3 linked regions of the Homo sapiens genome follow. The protein of the gene in region 1 interacts with the protein of each later gene in a pairwise test. Each region holds a gene or a part of one and is shown in the gene's direction. Other genes may lie near its edges.

The links. The genes of interacting proteins can lie anywhere in the genome.
Region 2: the proteins of CHCHD3 (region 1) and LMO1 interact in binary tests that used the Homo sapiens proteins (3 or more experiments, as listed by UniProt).
Region 3: the proteins of CHCHD3 (region 1) and EFHC1 interact in binary tests that used the Homo sapiens proteins (3 or more experiments, as listed by UniProt).

The regions. Positions count from the first base shown.
Region 1 is NC_000007.14:133,079,065-133,086,132, reverse strand, and holds the start of CHCHD3 (MICOS complex subunit MIC19), read left to right. Parts: upstream 1-4,042; 5' UTR 4,043-4,195; coding exon 4,196-4,276; intron 4,277-7,068. UniProt on the Homo sapiens protein: Component of the MICOS complex, a large protein complex of the mitochondrial inner membrane that plays crucial roles in the maintenance of crista junctions, inner membrane architecture, and formation of contact sites to the outer membrane.
Region 2 is NC_000011.10:8,225,861-8,232,892, reverse strand, and holds part of LMO1 (rhombotin-1), read left to right. Parts: exon of another isoform or gene 1-21; intron 22-786; exon of another isoform or gene 787-914; intron 915-1,808; exon of another isoform or gene 1,809-1,924; intron 1,925-2,388; coding exon 2,389-2,602; intron 2,603-2,614; exon of another isoform or gene 2,615-3,332; coding exon of another isoform or gene 3,333-3,469; intron 3,470-5,792; coding exon 5,793-5,918; exon of another isoform or gene 5,919-6,039; intron 6,040-7,032. UniProt on the Homo sapiens protein: May be involved in gene regulation within neural lineage cells potentially by direct DNA binding or by binding to other transcription factors.
Region 3 is NC_000006.12:52,437,328-52,444,359, forward strand, and holds part of EFHC1 (EF-hand domain-containing protein 1), read left to right. Parts: intron 1-976; coding exon 977-1,264; intron 1,265-7,032. UniProt on the Homo sapiens protein: Microtubule inner protein (MIP) part of the dynein-decorated doublet microtubules (DMTs) in cilia axoneme, which is required for motile cilia beating.

The DNA.
Region 1 (7,068 bases):
TAATTAGTTTTGCAGTGGATTCTGTAAGATTTTTCTATTTGTAAGATCATGTTATCTTCGAATAGAGGTAGTTTTACTTCTTCCTTTCCAGTCTGGATGCCTTTTATTTTTCTTGCAGTTTCTTATTCCACCTATCTTTAGTTTGCCATGATTCTTCATGGTACAGACTCAGTGTTATAACTTCTCTTCTTGCTATCTTTTTGTATGCTCTGAATTTTCAAGTTTAAATTTGAGAAAGTGAATACAGAGATACAGAAAACGGAGAAAAACATGGAGAATCTGAGTAGCTGAAGTATTAGCTATTATTTTTCTTAGGGCAAAGCTTTGCATTCTAGCTCATAGGTGTCTGGCTAGTAAATGCTGCCTTTGGATTAGATGACTATTAATAAGCTGTAGCCAGAAAGAAAGGGAGGCCACAAGTTCTGGGTAGCTCAAGAAGGGATTGTATAGGCATGACTGGCCTAGAAATTGACATGGATAGAACAGTATTGTTAGAGAAGGCATTTTGTTTTAAAGAATACATTGAATTTTTTTTAAACTCAGAAGGCATCTTTGTAATGTTGGTTAAAATGCATTAGGATGTCTAAAACATTTTTGGATTGTCTGTTTGATTAGACCACTTATATGTGTTTGAATCATAAAACATGAAGGCACTCCACTACCTTCTCATGCTTGGCATTCATCATCTTTAATATATTTGGTTGAAAGAACTCTACTTAATATTCTAACTGGAGATATATATATATATATTTAAGACAACTAGTGGTTTCTTCATCTCTCTATTCTCTCCAAGGAACGCTTTCTTTGTACTTGGTTATTTTCGTAAGTGCTTGTTGAGCATGTGTGTTATATAGAACCTCCGATATGCCCTATATATTGGGGTAATAAGTGAGAGTGTGTTTGTGGAGGGGAGGGTCCCCAAAAAATGAAAGTCATAATTCCTTGGAGCTTTAGTTCCCAGTAGAAGAAAGAGTTAGGCTGGGCATGGTGGCTCATGCCTGTAATCCCAGCACTTTGGGAGGCTAAGGCAGAAAGGTTGCTTGAGCTCAGGAGTTTGAGACCAGCCTGGGCAGCATAGTGAGACCACAGCTAGGTGTGGTGGCACACACCTGTAGTCACAGCTACTGGGGAGGCTGAACTGGGAGGGATTGCTTGAACCTGGGAGGTTGGGGCTGCAGTGAGTCGTGATTGGGCCACTGCATTCTAGCCTAGGCAACAAAGCAAGACCCTCTCTCTCTCAAAAAAAAAAAAAGAAAAAAGAAGGAAACTTGAGAACAAGTACAAAGTAGCACGTAGTCTCATAACTGCAAAGTAACATAGTACAATTTTAAAAGAATATAATGATGAGATGTAATCAACACTCTGCTACTGACCAGGGATATAGAGATTAAAAAGACATAGTTTCTGCTCTAAAGATTCATACAGTAAGGTTGGGAGCGGTGGCTCACGCCTATAATCCCAGCACTTTGGGAGGCTGAGGTGGGAGGATCATGAGGTCAGGAGATGGAGACCATCCTGGCCAACATGGTGAAACCCCATCTCTACTAAAAATACAAAAAAATTAGCTGGGTGTGGTGACACGCACCTGTAGTCCCAGCTACTCCGGAGGCTGAGGCAGGAGAATTGCTTGAACCTGGGAGGCGGAGGTTGCAGTGAGCCAAGATTGCGCCACTGAACTCCAGCCTGGCGACAGAGCGAGACTCTGTCTCAGAAAAATAAAAGATACATACAGTAATAGATCAGCACATAATTGGATTCATACAGTAATAGATCAGCACATAATTGAAGCTCAAAAATGCGACTGCATTGTAGATGCCTTTGGCATAAGAGAATGCCATGGTGTGTTGTGGCCTGCTGCTTTTAATGTTGAGAGGGATTAATTGAAGAATAGTACCATCATTAACCTAATTTCTATTGAGAATCATCTGCCTCTGTAAAACTAAGGTCATATGGCTAAACTTATGTGTAACAGTGTGTTTAGCAAAAAAGAAATATGTAGATGAATAACCTAATAACTATGTACTGGTCTCGTAGAGGTGAAATGTTGAACTATTAATAGGAACTTTCCACAATAGATCATCTCAACTTTTCTGATGTAGTTTTAATTCCTCCACTAATTTATGCCATCTTTGGCAATCACTTAACTTTTCTCTGCCTAACCCTATTATGGCCTAACTTATGTAACTGAACTAGTAGTAGAAGGAGACACAAAAGTGGAAAGTAAATTCTCTACATACTTGGTGCAAATAATTTATTCTATGAAGAAATGTATTTTCTCATAGACAGGTTTGAAAACCATAGTACTTAAAATTTTACTTTACAAAAAGAAAAAAATACAGATACTAGTTCATGAGACAAGAGACATGGACCAAACACACGTTTACGTTTTTTATTTTTTTATTTTATGGCTACTACTAAAATGCCACCATTCATGTACTGCATAACAGTGTTTCAGTCAAAGAAGAACCTCATTTCTGGCAGTGGAATCATAAGATTATAATGGAGCTGGAAAATTCCTGTCTCCTAGTATTTACTATACTATGCTTTTTATCTTTAGGTTAAAGTGCATTCTTTCTACCTATATAAAAAAGTTAACTGTAAAACAGCCTCAGGCAGGTCCTTCAGGAGGTGTTACAGAAGGTGCTGTTATCATAGGAGATAGCTCCATACGTGTTATTGCCTCTGAAGACCTTTCAGTGGGACAAGATGTGAAGGTGGAAGACAGTGATATTGATGATCCTGACCCCGTGTAGGTCTAGGCTAATGTGTGTGTGTTTGTCTTAATTTTTAACAAAAATGTTTAAAAAGTAAAAAGTAAATAATTTCAAAAATAGAAAAAGCTTATAGACTAAGTATATAAAGAAAGAAATATTTTTGTACAGCTATATAGTGTGTTTGTGTTTTAAGCTAAGTGTTATTAAAGAGTCAAAAAGTCACAAAAAAAGAAGTTTATAAGTTTAAAAAGTTACAGTAAGCTAAGGTCAATTTATTCTTGAAGAATGAAAATATATGAAAATAAATTTAGTGTTGCCTAAGTGCACAGTGTTGATAAAAGGTACAGTACTGCATAGTTGCGTCCCAGGCCTTCACATTCAACTCCCCACTCACTCACTGACTCACTCAGGGCAACTTCCAGTCCTGTAAGCTCCATTCATGGTAAGTGCCCTATAGAAGCATACCATTTTTTATCTTTGATTTTTTTTTTAATGGAATGCTTCAGAAATTCATGTGTCAACCTTGCTCAGGGGCTGTGCTAATCTCTGTATTGTTCAAATTGTCCTAGATGTGTTGCCAAAGCAATCACTTTTACACTGTTTTTGCTGTAGCTTTTCTATGTTTACATATATTTGTACACACAAATACCACTGTGTTACAATTGCCTACAGTATTTAGTACAGTGACATGCTGTACATCTTTGCAGCCTGGGAGCAATAGGTTACACCAAGTAGCCCAGGTGTGTAGTAGGCTACACCATCTGGGTTTGTGTAAGTACACTCTATGATGTTTGCACAACCACAGATATCACAGGGTCACCTAACGAGGCATTTCTCAGAAGTAGTCTTCATTAAGCTACCCTACGACTGTAATGAAACGCTAAGTTTTGAGCCAGGAATTTGTGTATAGAACACTAGGAATGGCTTCATTAGTATCATGCATCTTTTTCATTAAACTGTGAGTCCCTTTGAGAGAAAGATTGTGTCTCTGAACTTAGTGGCCTAAATTTCTAGAATTATGTCTTCAAAAAGTTGCCCAGTTAGGCGTCTCTGGGGAGTCAAAACCACAACTCCCAGAATGCCGTGCTCCCTTAGCGCGCTCAGGCGCGGGGAGAGAATGTCCCATCACCCACCGCGCCAGATCGAGACCACAGTTCCCACTACACCCAGGGACTCCGCGGAAAGCTATCAAACACCACCTGTTGCCATAGCATCCGGGTCGGGTGAACCAATCCGGGCGCCCTCGCCGAACAGAGGCGGGCAGTTCGCATCGCCGACCAACCTGAGGCGTTTTTGTTGTGGCGCGTGACCGGAGGAGGCGGGAGCTCAGGACCGGCGCCTTCTCCTTGCTTCTGGGGGTCGTGGCCTTGCTCCCGCTGTGCGGGAAAAGAATCCAGGCCCTTCCACGCGCGTGTGGGTGCGGGGGCCCCGAAGTGCTCGTGGTTCCCCGCTAGGTCTCCGCTGGGGCAGGAACCGGAATCATGGGTGGGACCACCAGCACCCGCCGGGTCACCTTCGAGGCGGACGAGAATGAGAACATCACCGTGGTGAAGGGCATCCGGGTGAGTGCCCGTGGACGGGCGGAGGGCCAGTGGTTGGACTCGGACCCCAAGGCCCCATCTTCTCCGGACCCGCTCAGCCTGGGTTTCTCCCGTCCTGGACCCTAGCGTATTAAGGCCAGAAGCCCAGGTGTCTGGGAAGAAGCCTAGAGTTTCAAGACGTGGGACATTCATTCAGAGATAGTTCCTGGTTGTGCCAAGTGCTAGGCACTGCTGGGGCGGGCGGGGAATGCCAGGTTGAATTATACCCTGCAAGGGCTCACAGTCTACTCGTAACTGTACTGCTCCCTTGTTGCAGGACCGTATTTGAAACCCATACCTCGGTGTACTTGTCTGTGAAATGGTTTTCCTGGGTTCAGGACCCAAACCCTGCTTTTCCACTGTGCACACCCTGTCTCCCAGGGTGAATTGGCATTTTAAGGATTGCCTTTGCTTTGTGTCATTTAGTGCTCTCCCTCTGATAACACCCCCTCCTCCCACCCACTCCCCACACCCTGTCATCCTCCCTCCCAGCCCCACAGTCTTTTCTGACCTGCCTGGGGCGGCTTCTGGCTTCTCCCTGCTTCACTTTCACTTGATATCTCCTCTTTCCCAGGCGCCTCCTCTGTGACCTGCTGCGCCGAAGTTTTGGATTAGGCCCAGTTGCTTCAGGACTAGTGTCTGCCAGTCTGATAGGGGCTGAGATGGGTTTGCAGTTTTTCATACCAGTAGAAGTAATGTAGTCATTTCTGACCAACGTTGTAGAGCACTTTTTTTTTAATGCCCTTTGCATGCACCTGATACATAAACTGAAAACCTGGTTTTTCTCTAGGGTGTCAGTATACCAGCACTAACTTCATTAACACACTCTCCGCTGCGCCTGAATTTGGAGCCTCACATTTTTGGACGTATGATGCCTGAACCTAGTAAATAAAGCAATTTTGACTTCAGAAAGTTTTATAATAATTTATATATTTTTTTCTGTTATCAACCAGCGTAAATAAATTACATTTGTAAATTATTTTTAACAGTTGTTACCAGGAAATAAAACTTCTTAAATATTTAAAATGTTTAAAAACTTTTTCTTCTGAAACTGTTACCTTGAGAATAATTTATTAAACTTTTCTTCATAGAAACTCAGACTGTCGAACTCAGTTTTTGGTCTGTGACCAGTATTTCTTTATATCATGCTAATTAATGGTAGTACTACATTTTGTAATAAAATATCTGAGGCTGTATTCTTTGAGTTATTGTGTTTCAGTTAGTACTCTTTGGAGTAAAAAATTACTGTAAACTTTAAGTTTTATGCAGAGATTTTAAGACTCTTGCCATTAGGCTTTCAGTACGCAACTCAGAGTGAAAAATAATTAAAAGACAAAGCAAAATAAGTTTTGAGTGAGAAGACATTGGTTAGAAAAAAATGTATAAATCCATATTCTCGTGCTTTAGTACAGACACAGTGCTAACAGCAAACAAAATCGAAAGAGAATGTGGCCACAGCACAGAGATTCATATCAAGTATTAGATAAGGTTGGATGGAATAACTGTGACAGCAGGGATAGGTATTCTATTAAAATGGAAAAATTGTCTAAAAAACCTTTTTAAGATTTTTGTTTTTTAAAAAGAAATGTCCTTTGGTCATATAACTTGACAGCATTCCTCATTTTTTTCCTTTCTTATATAGTACATTTTACCTGTATTGCTAACAGTTCAAGCATGATCATTTTTACCTCTATGCTTTTCTTCAGAATATACCCTTCACCTGGAATGCCCTTGCGCTGGTCTCCATTGCTTCAAATCCTCCTTTTACATGAATGTTTTGCAATCTCTCTGAGCTTCAGTTTTCCCATCTGCAAAATAATGCAACTGAGTACATCCCTCAGATCTCTAATATTTTCCAGTCCTGAAATCCTGTGAGTCTGGTGGCACTGTAAGTTTCTTGTAGCCATACTTAGCCCATTGCAGTTTCCTCTAGAAGTGACATCCATTGAAGTATTGAGTACACAGAGGTCATTCTGATTTCTTTGAGCTCATGATCAAAAGAGTATCAACTTGAAATTAAACAGACCTCAGTTTAAATCTCAGGTTAGATATTTATTACTTAACCTGATTGCCTGTGTGATTTTTGTCTGGGTCTTTTGTAGATGTTTTTCAGTTGATCTTAGTATTTTTCTTGGCTTGAATTAAGCAGACATCAGTTTAAATCGCAGGTTAGTTATTTATTAGCCTGTGGCCTTTGACAATTGACTTCTTTTATTTCCTTATCCATAAACGGTAATACCATCACTTCCCTTGATTGGTTATTGTAAGAAGATGAGGTAAGGTATGTAAAGCACCTGGCACATTGTAGATTTTCATTAAAAAGGCAGCCATTATTATGATAGGGTTCCTTTCACATGCAAAGTTTTAAGATTCTTTGAAAGTGCTGTGCTGTGTAGTGGAAAGAGCATGTGCCTTGGAACCAAGCAGACCTGGGTTGGATTCTATCTCTGCCTCTCACTAGCGGTGTCGCTCTGGACAAGTCACTTTTCATTGTGTTTCCGTATTTAGTATTTCTGGACAAAGCCTACTTTGAGAATTTGACATAATGTATATCTAGCACAGTGTCTTGTACTTTGACAGTGTTTGCACTTGTGAATAATAGCTGTTATTAGAGCTGTTCAAAAGAATGGATATGTGAACTTAAGTGAACTTCAAATTTTAATAAAAATAAGAGCATGTTGTGCCCCAACAGGTGTACCTAAAAGGGTATGGACTGGGAAATGGGAGTCTTACATTCTGCCCTAATTGAGGGTGTTTTTTTGTCTAGGTCTGTT
Region 2 (7,032 bases), on another chromosome or scaffold:
CCAGCCTGTCCAAGAGCCAGGGTAGATGGAAGAGAGAGTGGGACAGCTGCTTCACGTGCTGGGGCCTCTCACTGTCTCCCTTCATTTTGGGCTATAATTTAGTGGGCTAGGGTCTCCCCTGAGTACGGAGGTTCCAGCCATTCACCCATGTTCTGGTAATAGCCCAAATATAGAGCCCTGGGAGGGGCTCAGGACCACTGGGAAGGGAGCCAGGCCTGCTGCAAGCCTGGCTGAGCAAAAGGAACGTGAGCCTTGTAGGGGCTGTAGCGGGGGCCTGGCCCAAGATTTTCCCAGTCGGTGTTTGAGTGCGTACCTCTGCTGGCTGCATGCTCCCTGCACAGGGCCTAAGGACAAGGTCATGCCCTTGGAGCCCTACCCTGGTCCAGGTCCCACTCTGGGAGGCCCCTCATTTCCCCATCCAGCTATTTTAACTCCTCTCCCATTTCCCCACACCTCCCTGTAGGCCAGGACTTGGAAGGAGCCTCACAAGACCCCTTCAGTTCTCAGGGGTATCTGCTCCCCAGCTGCCCTCCTTGGGCTCTTTCAGAGCTCTGTGCCAGGCTGGGCCCTGCTAGAAGAGACACAGGCAGGCCCGAGGACAGAGTCATCCTGTGCCCCATCCCTCTCTCAGACCAATTAACCTTTAGAGCTGCATTAAGGAAATTAGGCAGCACACTCACCAGCTAACAGACAGGCCCTGCCGGGACTGCAGGGAGGAGAAGGAGGAGGGAGCCACTGGCCCTGCACACTGTAGCCTGTGGGTGGGCGCCAGCTCCCCAGACTCACCTGTCCAGGAGAAGTCTGAGGAGCCAGCTGGGCTGAGAGCGAGCACAGGAGAGGAGAAGGAGCCCTGGGGCCAGCTTGACGGTGGCTGACTCAAGCCCCTGTAACTGTCTGAGCCTCAATTTCCCCATCTGTAGTATGAGAACATTTAACTGGGAGAACTCTGAGGGCTCTTCTGACCTTACATCTGTGGATTCTGAGACCAAGGCCTCTTGTGGCTTGTTCTCCCCTAACGCCCAAGGAGGAGAGAAGCAAAAGGAAGGGAAGCAGCCCAACCATTCAGACTCTGGGCTGGGGGCAGTGAGGAGGGCTGGGAATGGGAGGGACACCAGGGGATGGGAGGAAGGCCAGAGCCCTGGAGAGAGCAGGGGTCCTTTGGAGAGGACGGGGCCAGTAGAAGGACAGACTCCAGGGGAGTGTTGGAAAGCCGGGGAGGTGGGGAGGGGTGGGCCCCTATCCAGCTGCGCCTTGGTCAGGAACGGAGCATGCACACGCTCCCTGTCTTCACAAGGGTTCTCAGGCAACTGCCACAGGCTCCCGCCCTGTCAAGTCACAGAGCAGGGCTTCTGAGGTCCTCTGCACTTCCCTCCCAGCCTCACGGGTCCACATGGATGTCCAGGCTACTGGACGACATATGTCCCCATCTCCTCCTCAACGGTCCCTGTGGTTCCAGGAGAAGGGACTAGGAACCCGTGCCTCTGTCACTTCATGCCCACACCTGCACGTCGTGCCTGTGTGTGAGGGGTGTGTGTGAGCGCACATGCTCGCCTGCCGCGACGGGAGGCTCTGCCCTGTGGTGAACATCACATTGGGCCCTTTGTACTTGGTGCCTGTGTGTATGTTGGGAAGCTGGTATGGGCCCTGGGAGGGACTGATGGCTGAGAGATCCTAATCCTGGTAGAATGAGGAAGGATCCAGAGGCTCAGAGCCTGCCCTCCCCCAGGCCAGGGCAGGTGAGGTGTGACACCGCCTGAAGCATTCCCAAGGGGAGCCCCAGCCAGGCCCTGCCAGCTGCCTCCGCTTACCTGCCAGGAGCCCCAGAGCCTCTGCTCCCTCCTGGGAGTGTCCCAGGGGCGTCTCACTTCCTTCTTGATGCCATCACAGCTCTACATGGATAGACCAAGAGGCTGTAGCACTTCAGCTGGAGAAAGACGAGTTGGCACAAAGATCTGGGGGTTCTAGAGGACCTCGTGGGCCTGAGGAGACTACATTTCTTAGGCTTATTGCTGAAAGAGCCAATGTGATGGTGGCTTCACAAGACGAGCTTCAGGCTTACTCCGGATGAGACCGCACAGGGGATAGAGGCCATGGTAGGGAGGAACAACTCAGGGAGGCCAGGCCTGGGGTCTGTGTGTGCCTTGGAGCAGAGCAGCCTCTGGAGGGACCTTCACAGGGCCAGGGAAACAGGCTGTGCCATGTAGCCCAAAGGGCAGGACCCGGAGCCAGGGGAGGAGGTTATTGGGGAGAAAGCGAGGGCTCCTGGGAGCCCCAAACCTAGAGGGGGCAGCAGAGAGAAGCAGTGAGCTCCCCATTCTTGGGGGATATTCCTTGAGGCCCAGAGCTACGGGGCCCATCCTGCGTTGCTGTCTGTCTGTCCGTCTGCAGGCGTGCCGATGCTCTCCGTCCAGCCCAAAGGGAAGCAGAAGGGCTGTGCGGGCTGTAACCGCAAGATCAAGGACCGCTATCTGCTGAAGGCATTGGACAAGTACTGGCACGAAGACTGCCTCAAGTGTGCCTGCTGTGACTGCCGCCTGGGCGAGGTGGGCTCCACCCTCTACACCAAGGCCAACCTCATCCTGTGCCGACGCGACTACCTGAGGTGGGCTGCCAAACCCTGGCCTCCCAAGCCCTTGTCCTGCTCAGAAAGCTCCCCATCCTCAGCCCCAGCGTGACTGTGCCCCCGGCCCTAGACCCAGTACCCTGTGTGTCCTCTCATTCTTGACTGTCCTGCCCCTGCCCTGCTTGCCCCAGATACCTGAGAAGTCACCTGAGGGGAAGGCCCAGGTCGTTATGCCCTTGGACTCGGTACCCAGCACAAGTCCAGGGCAGGCATTTGTAACCTGGGGCCCCTAAGTTAAGCTTTCCGAGGGCCCCAGTCTGGCTCCGCCCCCCTGCCTTGGCCAGGTGCTTCTGACCCACCTGATCTGGAATCTGGGAGGGGATACCTCAGAGGGGCTTTGAGAACAGGTGTGGAAGCTTTGACTTCCCCAGGACCCTCCTCCCTAATGCAGTCTCTTTCCATCTCCCAGTGTCCAACTTTCCTTTCTAGATGGTCCTTGGGAGCAGGCATCCATTTGCCCAGGGAAACTGGCAGGCAGCCATATCCTAGGAGCAGGGCCACTGATGCTGGAGCTTCAAGACCTGGGTTGGAACTAGCTGTGAGCCTTTGGCTCCTAATCTTCTCCCAGCCTCAGTTTACTTCCCCGTGAAGGGTGAAAGAATGATGCTTCCCTGCCTTGCATTCCTCTGAGCTCTAACTCACCCTCCCTACAATTTGGATCCTATTCCCTGGGGCCACCTCCCCCAATTAACCCTCCCTGAGGCCATTTATGACATCAGCAAGGCTGGAAGGAGGCCACAAAGCAGGGCCTTGGCTGAGACCCAGCACCTGCATTTGGCTCTGTCGCAGGCTGCTGGATGGTTGCCGGGCTTGTGGGGAAGGAGGGCTCATCGCATTAATTAACAGGTCGGGGCAAGGGCTTCATGGGGCTCCCTCTGCCCAGGTCTGGGCATGTTGCAAGGGGGAGGTTATCAGTGGAAGCTCCCTCAATTCCCCAAAGATCCTTTGACTGACCTGCCTGCCCCTTTTAACACCTGCATTTAAAAGTGATGCAGTAAAACAGAAGCTGTGACTTAGTGCTCCTTGCCAGGGCTGGAGGGGAGAGGCTGAGACCAGAAGCAGGGGTTAAGGAAGAATGTTCAGGCTAGGCGCGGTGGCTTATGCCTGTAACTCCAGCACTTTGGGAGGCCGAGGCAGGCACGTCACTCCAGCTCAGGAGTTCGAGACCAACCCTGGGCAACATGGTGAAACCCCGTTTCTAAAAAAAAAAAAAATTAGCCAGGTGTAGTGGCTGCATGCCTGTAGTCCCAACTACTCAGGAGGCTGAAGTGGAAGGATTGCTTGAGCCCAGATGTTTGAGGCTGCAGTGAGCTGTGATTGCGCCACTGTACTCCAGCTTGGGTGCCAGAGCAAGACCCTGTCTCAAAAAAGAAAAGAATGTTCCTGGGGATTCACCCCTTGAGGACCTAGAAGGGGCCTCCATGTCTGGAGGTTTAGGGCATCACCTGGGGGCTGACTCTACCAGGTTAGGACGATGTGGCAGACCATCTGATGGGTTCACAGGACTTGGAGAGAGAGGCCCACAGTGTAGGATGGGCTTATCAGGAAAAAGCACCCTCAAGCATATAGGGCCCTGCCAGCTACTAGGGATGGAAGGTAATTTTTTTTTTTTTTTTTGCTCTGGCAGAGGCAAGGAGTGACTGTAGGACCAGCTAGACCAGTGGGCTGGGATGCGAGCGTGGCTTCCTTGAGCTGCTCAGGCCTGGAGAATGGCTGTCCAGAGCCTGCGCCCTCTGCAGCAACTGTTCCTGGGCCGATGGCAAGAAAAGCCCCTCTTGGCAGGCAGATGCTGTGGCCTAGCCTTTGTCTGCCTTAATCTGAGCCACCAGGCAGCTCAAGCTGATGAATAATGGAGCCAAGCTCATCTGCAGGCGCCTGAGTTTGAGCTGGACAAATCGGGGATTAAAGGGGCCCCCCACCCTCTTCTCAGCCTCCTTGCCTCACTTGGGGCTTGCTCTGTCTGTGTGCAGGAAAGAAGCAAGGAGGAGCCGGGATGGCTCAGACCATTGGGACATCCAGCCAAGGGCTGGCCTGCATGGGGAGGGAGTAAACTCCCTGTCCCTAGAGCTTTACAGCCAGCAGCTAAGAGGAGGGGTGCCTGCCTCAAAGAGGCATTTGTGCCAGATGTCCTTGGCGCTTCCTTTGGGCATCAGTTCTGTTTTACAGCATCTTTGAATAGGATCATCCATCCCTATTTTACAGAAGGATAAACTGAGGTTCAGAGAAAGAAAAAAAGGGACTTAGGCAAGTAACACAGTGAGTTTGTCATGGAAAAAAGATTTAATAAAACACTTTAATTTTGGCAAGGCACAGTGGCTCACACCTGTAGTCCCAGCACTTTGGGAGGCCAAGGCAGGAGGATCAGTTGAGGCCAGGAGTTCGAGAGCAGCCTGGCCAATATAGTGAGACCCCATCTCTATTTTTAAAAATCAAATAATAAACACTGTAATGTTAAAGGTGGGAAAAGCATGTCATGCAGTGGTTTAGAGCACGCCTTCTGGACCAAGGCCCTGTGACTGTCCAAGTTGTTTCTCTGTGACTCATATTTTAAATCTTTAAAATGGGGAATAATAATAGTACCACCTCCTAGGTTTGTTGTGAGGATTAAGCGTTTATCTTTGTAAAGCTCTTAGATTAGTGGCTGACACATAGTGAACACTACCTAGGTGGTTGCTTAGTGAGTTGTGACTGAGAATTTACAACAGGTTTCACAACTACCCCATAAAGGGTGTGTTTCAGGCTTTGTTTTACAGATGAGGTAAATGAGGCTCAGAGAGACTCACTGACTTGCCTGAGGGCACACAACCCAAGATTCAGTCTGCCCCTGAAATTCAGGCTTGCTCAGGGCCCAGCCTAGGATTCTCTTGGTGGCTCCAGGGCTTGAGGACCCTTGTGGGAGCCTGGGAGGGGGCCTTGGGATGGGCAGTGGCAGCCAACTCCTGACCCCCTACACACCCTCCCTGGAAGGGGATGTGCTGATTTATTGGCAGCCTGATCTCTGGGCAGAATCTAGATGCTGCCCTCAGTGCTCTTATCCTATTGCCTGAGCCCACCTGCTGAGCCCACAAGTTGGAGTATGGGAAGGACCCTGGATGGAGGCAACTCCTTTCCCCCTGCCCACCCAGCTTCCCAGAATGCTGCTGAGTCCTCTGCGCCCTTCCCTCGGCAGGCTCTTTGGCACCACAGGGAACTGTGCTGCTTGCAGCAAGCTGATCCCAGCCTTCGAGATGGTGATGCGGGCCCGGGACAACGTGTATCACCTCGACTGCTTCGCCTGCCAGCTCTGCAACCAGAGGTCAGTGCTGGACTGGCCGACCCAACACACTCCCCAGACGCCAGCCTGAGGCCTGCTGGGATGGGCCAGGAGCACGGCGGAGGCGTGCACGCAAATGCGGGTTGCGTGTGTGTATGTGGTGGTGCGTGCAGGTTATGAGCGTGCATGTGCTTTATGTGTTTTATGTGTGTGTAAGCTCGGTAGCCAAATGTGTGCACTTTAATATTGGGTGTGCACATCTGTGTGGCACATTTCTGTGTGAATATAATGAAGGCGTGCATGAGTTTACTGTGTATGCATAGTTGAGTGTGCATGTGCATGCATGTGTATTTGGAAATGTACAAGTGGGCACATGTGCATGATGGAATTAATATGCATTTGTACATGTGTTTTTAAATGTCTGGGGGTGTATGTGTATGTGCAACGTGCATGCATGATGAGGTGAGTATGCATGTGTGTATACATATTTTATTTTTTGAGATAGTCTCACTCTGTTGCCCAGGCTGGGGTGCAGTGGTGTGATCTCACAATCTTGGCTCACGGCAACCTCTGCCTCCCGGGTTCAAGTGATTCTCCTGCCTCAACCTCCCAAGTAGCTGGGACTACAGGCGTGTGCCACCACGCCTGGCTAATTTTTATTTTTATTTTTATTTTTATATTTTTAGTAGAGACGGGGTTTCACCATGTTGGCCAGGCTGGTCTTGAACTCCTGATCTCAGGTTATCTGCCCACCTCAGCCTCCCAGATTGCTGGGATTACAGGTGTGAGCCACCGCGCCCAGCCTGTATACGTGTTTGAAACGTGCATGTGCATGGGATAACGTATCCTCCCACCCCCGTACCCAGTGTATAGTATGTGCATGTGTGTGCATGTATGTTCCAGTGAGAAGGGGTTCCCAAATCTGGAGGGCAAAGTCCCCTCAGGGAGTGGCCACTCTCTCCTCACCCAGCCCTTGTGATTCTGGTTCCAGCCCAGCCTATTTTCTGGTCTCTTGGCCCCAACTCTGTGCCCTAGCCCTGTGGGAGTCCCTGGGGACCTAAGGAGCCAGAGCCCTTCAGCCCTGGCTGGGGCCTAGCACCAGAAGGCAGGCGCTCTTCTCAGGAGCCCCCAGGTCAGGTAGGAACGCATACAAGTG
Region 3 (7,032 bases), on another chromosome or scaffold:
CATGGAGGTGAAGCTAGTAGAGTTAAGTCCTTTAAGATGTATTCTCACCAAGGAACATATGCAATAAATAGTTTATACACATTGTGAGTATTTAAAGCAGATGTCAGCAAACTTTTTCTGTAAAGGGCAGTTAGCGTATATTTTGGCCATTGCAGTGGTTTTAGCCTGCGTAGTCTGCCACAACAAAATACCACAGATTGAGTGGTTTAAATAATAGAATTTATTTTCTCACAGTTCTGGAGGTTGGAGGTCCAAGATCAAGGTGCCAGCTGGTTTGAATTCTGGTGAGGGCTCTCTTCCTGGCTTGCATACAGCGGTCTTCTTGCTATGTCTTCATGTGGCCTTACCTTGGTGTGTACATGTGGGAGTTAGGGGAGGGAAGTAACTCTCTTTCTCTTCTTCTCTTCTAAGGCAACCAGTTCTATGGGATTAGACTTAAAGGTGGCATACCTCTATCCTTAAGATCTGGTTTAACCTTAATTACCTCCTAAGGATCCTGTCTCCAAATATAGTCACATTGAGGGTTAGGGGTTCAACATATGAATTTTGGGGATGAGGGGGACACAATTTAGTCTGTGTATCTCTGTCACAACTATTCAACTCTTCCCTTGTAATGGGAGAGCAGCTGTTAACAAAAAAGCGTAAATTATTTACATAATTATTTGTGGATTGAAAATTTAAATTTTTATAATTTCCATGTGTTATGAAACATTTTTTAAAATTTTTTAAACCATTTAAATATGTAAAACCCACTCTTAGCTTGCAGGTCATAAAAAAAACAGGTGGCAGGTTAGATTTGTCCCATGGACTATAGTTTGCAGTATCTGTAGTTTTAGAGTATCAAGATTTACAGGATAGAAGTGATGAGTGTTAAAATCTCCCTGTGTGGTTCTGTTTTCAGGAAGGTACTTGATATTTTTCAGATGACTATGACAAGCTAATAGTACACCATTTCTCCTTTCCTTGTATGTTATAGGTACTGAAATTTGATGCCTATTTCCAAGAAGATGTTCCTATGTCAACTGAGGAACAGTATAGGATCCGTCAGGTGAACATTTACTATTATCTAGAAGATGACAGCATGTCTGTCATAGAGCCTGTTGTAGAAAATTCTGGAATCCTTCAAGGCAAGTTAATAAAACGCCAGCGGCTAGCCAAGAATGACCGGGGTGACCATTACCATTGGAAAGACCTAAATCGAGGAATAAACATCACAATTTATGGCAAAACTTTCCGCGTTGTTGACTGTGACCAATTCACACAGGTATAGCATATATTTTTGAAAGTTGTGGGGTCTGAGGCATCATTCTAATTTATAGAAGGATACATTTCATTTATTAGGGTAAGGGGAGGACATTGGTAATCTGTCCTGCATGAATTATTATGAATGGCTAGGTATTTGCATGTGTGTATGTGCTAATATGTGCCAACACTAATAGTAACATAATTTTTTCAGAATGATATTAATACTTATTCACTCAAAATCAAACTCTCATCATAGCTGAATAATTTGGTAAGAAACCAGGTTAAAATGGCAGTTCAAACAGGGAGTAGGGGAATAGCATCCCTGCTGGGATGTAAGTATGGAAGAGGGATTAAACGTTTTATCTTAAGTGTGAGTTTACAAAAATAGCACTACTTCTATTAGCAGATATGAGCCTAAAATTTTTTGTGTAGCTCATATATTTTTGGTAAATGATACTTGCTATATTCTAGGAAAGCTTACCATCTAAAGAATTTCTGAAATGAAACCATTTTTAAATGAAAAAACCTCTTCTATATGTAAAAAGTCCTCTATTTCGTAAGTTTGGATTTTTTAATACAAAGGAAACTTTTATTAAAGTTACATGCATAGAGGATATAGGTGGCCTTTCTTTACTACAAAGTGTAGGAATTAGGAAGTCAATTCCAAATTTGTCTTAGTTAAAAAAATATTTCTAGCAGCAAAGATATAGTTTCTGAAGTATTTTATGTCCCTATTCCAGGATACCTAGTGCCATATGTGACTAATTTTTACCATGCACTGAGCTCCTATGAATCCATTATTGTTTTCATTTAGTAGTTTGTTTAACAGATATTTATTTGCATGCCTGCTTTGTTCCATGCACTGTTCTAGGTGCCAGATGTTTTCAGGAAGGTACTTGATATTTTTCAGATGACTATGACAAGCTAATAGTGCACCATTTCTCCTTTCCTTGCATGTTATAGGTACTTGCCCCTATAGAGGTTCCAATCTTGTTGGAGGAGATAAGCAATAGCAAATAAATAGATTGGTTATATGTCAGATGATGATAACAGCAATGGAGGAAAATAAAGCTGAGTAAAGGGAATGGAAGTTGAGGGGCTCTTTATAGAGGCGGATCAGAGAATGCCTCAGTGATAAGATGACATATGAATAGAGGCCTGAAGGAAGTAAAGAAAGGAGCCATGGCATCAGTGCCATTCCAAAGCAATAGAGAAAAATAGCTTCAAAAGTAGAGGTGCTAGACCATCTTTGAGATATTCTCCCGTTCCAACATATTTTTATCTCTTTGCTTTTTAGGTGTCTGAGGTCTTATATATCATAGGCAGTTTCACAATTGTACCAACAGTGAGAAATGATAAAATGTTATCTAAACATAAATGTATTAACAATTATTTTTACAGTTGTGTTTTCATAACAATTATTTTTACAGTTGTGTTTTTATGGGCAATTTGAACATTTGCAAGTTAATCACTGAGCGTTTGACCTAATCTATTTATAGTCGGTTCTCATTATTGACAGTAATTAGGACTATAAAGTCACCACAAACACTGAATTAGTGAATACTGAACCACTAGTCTTAGAGGAAATACAGGGTTAGGTTCCCACTAATCTCTGGCCACATTTTTGTCAACTGATCAATACATAAGTTTGATTCATGTATGTTTCTGTTTAAAGACACCTTATTTAATATATACGGTTGATTCATTAACATTAAACTCACACCCAACAGCACTATAACTCACGTCTGAACAAAGCTTATCTAAGACATGCATTTTCTCCATGAGGTGTGTTACAGCCTTCTTGTGCTTAGGAACACTAAATAGCACTTCATCACTAGGCACTGGGACCCTTTAAACAGCAAAATCACCAACAAAAAACACAAAAATGCAAAAAATCTGGCACCTTCATGTATATGTATATGTATGTGTATATGTATCACATTTTCTTTTTCCAGTTTACCATTGATGGGCATTCAGGTTGATTCCATGTCTTTGCTATTATGAATAGTGCTGCGATGAACATACTTGCGGGTATGTCTTTATGGCAGAATGATTTATATTCCTTTGGGTATATACCCAATAATGAGATTCCTAGGTCAAATGGTAGTTCTGTTTTCAGGTCTTTTAGGAATCACTACACTGCTTTCTACAATGGTTGAACTAATTTATACTCTCATCACCAGTGTATAAACATTTCTTTTTCTCCACAACCTTGACAGCACCTGTTATTTTTTTACTTTTTAATAATAGCCATTCTGACTGGTGTGAGATGATATTTCATTGTGGTTTTGATTTGCATTTCTCTAATGATAGTGATGTTGAGCTTTTTTTTCATATGGTTATTGGCCATGTGTATGTCTTCTTTTGAGAAGTGTCTGTTCATGTCCTTTGCCCACTTTTTAATGGGGTTCTTTGCTTTTTTTCTTGTAAATTAAAGTTTCTTATAGATGGTGCATATTGGACCTTTGTCAGATGCATAGTTTGCAAATATTTCTTTCCCATTCTTTAGATAGTCTTTTTACTCTGTTGATGCTTTCTTTTGCTCTGCGGAAGCTCTTACGTTTAATTAGATACCATTTGTCAATTTTTGCTTTTGTTGTGATTGCTTTTGGTGTCTTTGTCATGAAATCTTTGCCCATTCCTATGTTTAGAATAGTGTTGCCTTGGTTGTCTTCCAGGGTGTTTATAGTTTTGGGTTTTACATTTAAGTCTTTTATCTATCTTGAGTTGATTTTTATATCTGGTGTAAGATATATGGCTAGCATATGGCTAGCAGGTTATCCCAGCACCTTTCCCCATTGCTTATTTTTGTCAACTTTGTTGAAGATCACATAATTATAGGTGTGTAGCCTTATTTCTGAGCTCCCTATTCTATTCCATTGGTCTATGTGTCTGTTTTTGTACCAGTACTGTACTGTTTTGGTTACTGTAGCCCTGTAGTATAGTTTGAAGGCAGGTAACATGATGCCTCCAGCTTTGTTCTTTTGCTTAGAATTGCCTTGACTATTCAGGCTCTTTTTGGGTACCATTGAATTTTAAAGTATTTTTTTCTAGTTCTGTGAAGAGTGTCACTGGCAATTTGATAGGAATAGCATTGAATCTGTACATTGCTTTGGGCAGTATGGTGACTGTAAAGATATTGATTTTTCGTATCCATGAGCATGTAATGTTTTTTCATTTGCTTGTGTTATCTCTGATTTCCTTAAGCAGTGTTTTGTAATTCTCATTGTAGAGATCTTTCATCTCCCTGGTTAGCTGTATTCCTAGGTATCTTATTCTTTTTGTGACAGTTGTAAATGGGATTGTGTTCCTGATTTTACTCTCAGCTTGGCTGTTGTTGGTGTATAGGAGTGCTAGTGATTTTTGTATGTTGATTTTGTGTCCTAAAATTTTGCCGAAGTTGTTTATTAACTTAAGGAGTTTTTGGGATGAGGCTCTGGAGTTTTCTAGATATAGAATCATGTTTTCTCCAAACAGGGATAGTTTGACTTTCTCTCTTCCTACTTGGATGTCCTTCATTTCTTTCTCTTGACTGATTGTTCTGGCCAAGACTTCCAATATTGTCTTGGATAGAAGTTGTGGAAGAGGGCATCCTTTTCTTGTGTCAGTTTTCAAGAGGAATGCTTCCAGCTTTTCCCTGTTCAATATAATGTTGGCTGTGGGTTTTTCATAGATGGCTCTGATTATTTTGAGGTGTGTTCCTTTAATACCTAGTTTATTTATTTATTTATTTTATTATTATACTTTAAGTTATGGGGTACATGCGCACAACGTGCAGGTTTGTTGCATATGTATACATGTGCCATGTTGGTGTGCTGTACCCATTAATTTGTCATTCAATTAGGTATATCTCCTAGTGGTATCCCTCCCCACACCCCCCACCCTATGACAGGCCCCAGTATGTGATGTTCCCCACCCTGTGTCCAAGTGTTCTCATTGTTCAATTCCCACCTATGAGTGAGAATATGCAGTGTTTGGTTTTCTGTCCTTGCGATAGTTTGCTCAGAATGATGGTTTCCAGCTTCATCCATGTCCCTACAAAGGACATGAGCTCATCATTTTTTATGGCTGCATAGTATTCCATGGTGTATATGTGCCACATTTTCTTAATCCAGTCTATCATTGTTGGACATTTGGGTTGGTTCCAAGTCTTTGCTATTGTGAATAGTGCCGCAATAAACATATGTGTGCATGTGACTTTATAGCAGCATGATTTATAATCCTTTGGGTATATGCCCAGTAATGGGATGGCTGGGTCATATGGTATTTCTTGTTCTGGATCCTTGAGGAATCACCACACTGTCTTCCACAATGGTTGAATTAGTTTACATTCCCACCAACAGTGTAAAAGCATTCCTATTTCTCCACATCCTCTCCAGCACCTGTTGTTTCCTGACTTTTTAATGATCTCCATGCTAACTGGCATGAGATGTGTGGTTTTGATTTGCATTTCTCTGATGGCCAGTGATGATGAGCATTTTTTCACGTATCTGTTGGCTGCATAAATGTCTTCTTTTGAGAAGTGTCTGTTCATATCCTTCGCCCACTTTTTGATGGGGTTGTTTTATTTTTTCTTGTAAATTTGTTTAAGTTCTTTGTAGATTCTGGATATTAGCCCTTTGTCAGATGGGTAGATTGTAAAAATTTTCTCCCATTCTGTAGGTTGCCTGTTCACTCAGATGGTAGTTTATTTTGCTGTGCAGAAGCTCTTTAGTTTAATTACATCCCATTGGTCAATTTTGGCTTTTGTTGCCATTGCTTTTGGTGTTTTAGTCATGAAGTCCTTGCCCATGCCTATGTCCTGAATGGTATTACCTAGGTTTTCTTCTAGGGTGTTTATGGTTTTAGGTCTAACATTTAAGTCTTTAATCCATCTTGAATTAATTTTTGTATAAGGTGTAAGGAAGGGATCCAGTTTCAGCTTTCTACATATGGCTAGCCAGTTTTCCCAGCACCATTTATTAAATAGGGAATCCTTTCCCCATTGCTTGTTTTTCTCAGGTTTGTCAAAGATCAGATGGTTGTAGATGTGTGGTATTATTTCCGAGGGCTCTGTTCTGTTCCATTGGTCTATATCTCTGTTTTGGTACCAGTACCATGTTGTTTTGGTTACTGTAGCCTTGTACTATAGTTTGAAGTCAGGTAGCGTGATGCCTCCAGCTTTGTTCTTTTGGCTTAGGATTGTCTTGGCAATGCAGACTCTTTTTTGGTTCCATATGAACTTTAAAGTAATTTTTTCCAATTCTGTGAAGAAAGTCATTGGTAGCTTGATGGGGATGGCATTGAGTCTATAAATTACCTTGTGCAGTATGGCCATTTTCACAATATTGATTCTTCCTACCCATGAGTATGGAATGTTCTTCCATTTGTTTGTGTCCTCTTTTATTTCATTGAGCAGTGGTTTGTAGTTCTCCTTGAAGAGGTCCTTCATGTCCCTTGTAAGTTGGATTCCTAGGCATTTTATTCTCTTTGAAGCAATTGTGAATGGGAGTTCACTCATGATTTGGCTCTCTGTTTGTCTGTTATTGGTGTATAAGAATGCTTGTGATTTTCGCACATTGATTTTGTATCCTGAGACTTTGCTGAAGTTGCTTATCAGCTTAAGGAGATTTTGGGCTGAGAGGATAGGGTTTTCTAAATATACAATCATGTCATCTGCAAACAGGAACAATTTGACTTCCTCTTTTCCTAATTGAATACCCTTTATTTCTTTCTCTTGCCTGATTGCCCTGGCCAGAACTTCCAACACTCTGTTGAATAGGAGTGGTGAGAGAGGGCATCCCTGTC